Linked DNA regions of Homo sapiens: region 1 is linked to region 2. The links come from fine-mapping of genetic effects on gene expression. Tissue or cell type: whole blood. Region 2 holds a variant in brackets; the other region holds the start of a gene. All regions are shown on one strand. Distances are between the middles of the regions.

Region 1 (2,612 bases), 350 kb after region 2:
CTCGCCGCTCCTCCCCCGGGCGCCTCCCGCTCTTTATCCGCCGCGGGGGCCGCACCAGGGCCCGAGCTCGGGCCTGGGCCGGAGCCCGAGCCTGACCCAGGGCCACTGCAGCTCCGGGGCACCCCGGAGGCCACGACCCGCGAGTAGATGTCCCGGAAGAGGCTCTCCATGCAGGCTGTCAGGTAGATGGCGGCGTGCTCGTGGATGCGCAGCGCCACGCGGCTGTCCACCATCCAGCGATACACGCGGCCCACGGAGAAGGTGAGGCCGCAGCGGGCCGACTTGCCGCGGCCCAGGCGGTCGCCGCCGGCGCTGCTCATGTTGTAGAGGGACAGTGCGGCCAGCGCAGCCGCCGTACAGTGCGCGGCCAGGCCCCAGGACAGCACGATCTCCATGGCGCTCTGGATCTCGTACTTGGTGCACTTGGCGAAGCGCAGGCTCAGGCGCTGCGCCTCTTTGGCTATGCGCACCAGCGCCCGGCTCACCAGCGTCGACAGCTTGGCCAGCGCGTCCTTGGGCAGGCCGCCGGGGACCGCCGGGCCTGCCCGGGGATCCCGCGAACGCAGCAGCAGCGCCTCCAGCTCCTGGAGAGTCCAGGGGACCTCGTCTAGGTCCGGCAGCAGCCGCGAGCAGTGCTGGCCGGCGCAGTCCAGCCCCTCGGAGTCTTCCACCAGGGCAGTGTTGACAGTGTCAAAGCTGTTGTGCCGGCTGTGCATGGAGTCAGCTAGAGGCGGCCAGCAGCTCCCGCCATACGGGGACGCCGGGTGCGAGTCGGAACAGCACAAAGACAAGTTGGAGGAGCGCACCGAGTCCGCCGCGCCACCATAACCCGAGTCCAGCGTCAGATCCTCCAGCGTTCTCACCACGGGCTTCTTACCTCTCCTGGCCATCGCTGCGCCACTTCATGCTGCAGCCGCCTGGGAGCCAAAGGGAAGGAGCGGCGAGGAGCAGCGAGTGCCGCGGGGCGCGGGGAGAGCCGAGTCCGCGCCGCCTTGGCTCACTTTTCCACTAGCCGCTGCTACCAACTGTTAGTACTTTCGGCTGCCTCCCGGAACTGCCGCCGCTGGAATATACAGAGCAGACCCTGGAGTCATCTTCCAGAGTCCGGGCCGGAGCTGGGCGCAATGGGGAGCGAGCCAGGCCGGGAAGGAAGCTCCCGCCGGGGCTTGCCCCTTTCTTCCAAAATAAAAAGTGTCTAGACCGCTCTTCCCTGAGCCCCGCTGGGCGCAGTAGCCACCGGGCGCCGGCCACGGTGTTCGTGGGACTGAGACCACCCCAGATGCCGCCGCCGCCGCAGCTCCGCGGGCAGCTGGCTCCCGGCTCCCGGCTCCCAGTTCCCGGCCCTGGTTCGCTCGGCGCCAGCCTGCCCTGCACCGGAGCGCAGCAGCGGCCGTGGCGGCTGCAAACCTTGCCGAACCCCAGCAAACCCCGGGCAGCCAGTGGGACGGGCGTATGCAAAGCAGGGGCGGCGGAGAGCCAGTGGAATCGGAGAATGCTAATTACCTCGCTTTTTTTTTTTTTTTTTAAATCCCTCCTCCCCATGCGGCCCCGCCCCTCACACACGCCCCCGGCGGACACCGAGGCTGCAGGAAGTGGGGAGCAGTGGCCAGGGACTTGGGGAACCCTTGCAAGCGTAGAGACGTGGATGCTGCCCCCTGCTGCTGTCCCTGCCCGCATTCTCCCGGAGGGTGGTGGGTTGGGCCGGTGACCTCCCCACCTAGGTGTGCTCTCCACCGCGGTTCACAAGGTGTCTGCCTGACGGTCGCTCTCTCCCCTGCGGTTCGCATTTCACTTTTTTCCCCCCGTAACACCTGAAACATGGTTTTCCTCCCTCTCTATTCCCACTTCGGGTACGCAAACCAATTAGTGCGGCCCTCTTTCAGCCGGGGTTTGCTCCAGCATGGAGGGAAATAAGCCTGTCGAGCGGAGGCCCGTGGCGGTGGACACCACTGGGAGGCCGGATCTCCGGCCATTCGCCACCTGCCACTAGGGCGCGTTAACTCGATTCCTTTCAGTAGCCAGGAGGACCCTGTCCCTGCTTCAAAGTCCTGGGCGTGTGCTGCAGGGAGGGCTCAAGCACCACTTTGCCATCCTGGTGGGCATCTTTCCAAATAGCTCGGCCTTCTTAAAAGGAGTAAATTTGCTCAAAGGAGAATCTTCTTTCCTGACTAAAGAAAGATATAATATATATATGCATGGCTTAGCTGCATTCCTGTGTCAAATAGCATCGTGTCATCTACTTGTCTGTCCCCACCCACCCAGGCAGAAACCATATCTTACACACATGGGGATTCCTAGCTCCGCACACTGTGTCTCTCAGCTTAGAATCCCCTCCTATAGGAAGCTGGCCCAGATGTTTCAAGACTGGCTTCGGTGCTTCCACTGCCTCTATCCCCTTCTGTGGTTGCTGATTTCTGGGCCCTTGCAACACTAGGTTGCAAAAGCCTGGTTACTTGTCTGGATTCTACACTGGGCTAGGGGTTCCCATGCATAGTCCTGGCACAGTATAAGTGCTCAGTAAATATTTGTTGTAAATTGATGAAGGACGTAAGGATATGCTTTTAAATTGTTGCTTTGAATGTTCAACAATGGCCAACAGGTATATGCAAATA
Region 2 (2,754 bases):
GAGAAATCATTGGCAATAGATGGGTGCACAAATGACTTTCAGAAAATGCCTCAGAGAACATGGAGTTCTTAAAATGACTTATTACAGATGAATACAAAGACATCTTAAGGATCTTACCTGAGTCCTGACCATATATATAGATGATCTTTTTTTTTTTTTTTTTTTTGAGAGTCTCGCTGTGTCATCCAGGCTGGAGTGCAGTGGTACGATCATGGCTCACTGCAGCCTCGACCTCTCAGGCTCAAGCAATCCTCCCCACTTCTCCCACTTCAGCTTCCCAAGTAGCTGGGACTACAGGTGTGCACCACCACACCCAGCTAATTTTTTATTCTTTTGTAGAGATGGGGTCTTACTATGTTATCCAGGCTTGTCCCAAACTCCTGGGTTGAAGTGATGCTCCCGCCTTGGCCTCCCAAAGGGCTAGGATTACAAGCATGAGGCACCATGCCTGGCCTAGATTGTCTTTTTTTTCAGGCATCATTTCAAGTATCCTCTGAGAGAGAGGAACAGAAGAACCTGATACCATTGCAGTGACCTGGGAGAACAGAGCAGTCCTTCTCAGACCTCAGTGTGCTCAGCACTGGGCCTCTGGTTAAAATGCAGATTCCATGTAGTAGGTCTGGAATCGAGGCTGACATTCTGCATTGCCAACAAACTCCCAATGATGCAGAAGCGACTGTCCGGCTCCACTTTGGAAAGCCAGGAAGTAGAGTACTTATTTGGGAAAAAGCTACAAATGCTCACACAGTTGGAGAAGCAGTGATCCAGCAGAGAAGTTACTTGACTTGCCCAAAGTTGCAAACAACAGTGAGAGTGAGTGAGATCTGTGGCTGGCGCTCCTGGTTCCTGAGCCCGTGTTCAAGTCTAGATTACGCTGTTTCCCTCATTCCAAGTACAAGGAGTAGCTGCTGCACTGTGACCTCCCCATTGGACAATGAAAGGATTTTACGCCCCACTTCAAGCTGCATCCTACCCAAATCTACCTAATGAGCCATTACCCTTCTTTAAAACAACTGTGTGACCAGACCACTTAGGAGTGTGGAGTGTGACCACTTAGGACTCCACACAATGAGCCAGAACCGTCCAACTCAAGGCTGGTGTTTCTGAAGGCTTGCACTGGGAGGAGCGCCCCCTGCCGCTCAGCCCTGAGTCCACAACCCCACCTGCACGTTGCTCAATGTCCTGACCTCCTGCTGT[C/T]TCAACATCAGAGCTATTTACCGATTTCCTCTCTTTGCTAAAACAACAACCACCACAACAACAAACTTCTCATGAACTGGGGTTTCTCAATCTGCCCTCGTACTTTTGCTCCCCAAGAATTCAGTGCTGTATGTACAGTGGGAAATGGAAACAATAGAACCATGTTTCAGCTGAAACTGGCACAGTTAAAAAAAAACACCAACCACGAAAAAACTAGAATGCCTACATAAGCTTGGGGATTTTTTCGTGCTTTATGCTTAAGACGCTTTTGAAAGGTTGCAGCTAAAAGTAAAATTTGTTTTGATAGCATTCTCAGCAACAGAAAGCAAATGAATCTCTTGTCCTCCCCATGGAAGTAAAAAGAAGGAGCCCAGTTGCTGCTCTGGAGAAAGTGGCCATGGAATTTACCTTCTCTGTCCTTAGAATGAAAGGCCTCAAAGCAGCCTTCGTTTGCAGGCTTTGCAGGACTTTGCTGATGTAAAAAGCCTTAGAAGCCGTTGAGTCTTTGAAGTCTTTCTTGGCTCTAACAGGAGGCTAAAAGCCAAGTCTCTCGAATTCGGCTTGTTCCCTGGGCCTGGAAAGAGACTGAAATCCATCTTGGTGGCCACCCAACCACACCTGCTCCACCACACCCTGCGATAACAGAGTGAGACCCGGAGGCCAGGAGATGCCTTTTGGGGGTGTGTCCTTGGTAAGTGAGGCGCATCACTGAGTGACTGTTTGGGGTGAAATCAGCCTTTAGGGAACATTTCTCAGATACTTTTCTTGCTTTACCAAACAAGGCTGAGCATCCAGGTTGGTGGGACCTCGGCCCAATAAAAGCCAAAAATCCGAGTTAGTGTATTAGTACAGAGAAAAACAAAGTGAGTATAAAGAAAAAAGTATTTAAAAAATCTGAGTTAGGAAAGGTGCAGGCTCAGATAAAAGACACAAAATGGGCCAGTCACATCTCCTTCTGGACCCAGTGCCCAGCTGAGCTTGACCATGACAATCAGTAACCGTGGACCTGCCTGCCAGAGGCGCCCGGCTGTCCTGGGGTGGTGGGTCCTCAGTGGCCGTCCGTCCCCACTCCTGCCACCTCATGTCACGCCAAGAGTTGGCTTGGCAGCAACTAAGTCCCCCAAGCTGTGTCTGTGTGTCAAGGAGCACCTTGAGGGACCCTGTCTCCCACATCTCTGTGTCCGCTCTGTGTCCTCTCTGTGTCCTCAGTCCCATTAAACATTGGTCCATCTACATTGAATCCTCACGCCACCCAATACTTCTTTCTCCCCCAAACAATACTCACCAAAAAAAAGACATCCAGAACAAGTAGACCTGTCATCACACCACATCACAGATACACATGACTAACATTTGTCTTAGCCCAGAAAGCTCTTTCTTCCTCCTTCTCTCTTTTTTTTTTTTTGTCTTAGAGACAGGGTCTCACTATGTTGCCCAGGCTGGCCTCGAACTCCTGGGCTGAAGTGAATCTCTTGCTTCAGCCTCCCAATATCTCAGACTACAGGCATATGCCCCCACACCCAGCTGATCATATTTATTATTATTATTATTTTTTGA

Evidence for each region. PIP is the estimated chance that this variant, and not a neighbour inherited with it, causes the effect.
Region 1: ABTB3 starts here. The variant in region 2 is fine-mapped to the expression of ABTB3 in whole blood (TOPMed, PIP above 0.99).

Annotation. Positions count from the first base shown.
Region 1 is chr12:107,317,219-107,319,830 of GRCh38, reverse strand. ABTB3 (ankyrin repeat and BTB domain containing 3) reads right to left here and starts at 1,397. Exons shown (of 17, transcript NM_001018072.2): 1 at 1-1,397. The coding sequence starts at 890. RefSeq lists an enhancer at 176-895.
Region 2 is chr12:107,669,619-107,672,372 of GRCh38, reverse strand. No RefSeq gene overlaps it. Among named protein-coding and RNA genes, the nearest start is that of PWP1, 15 kb to the left of the region's middle. The variant C/T (reference allele first, on the strand shown) is at 1,198.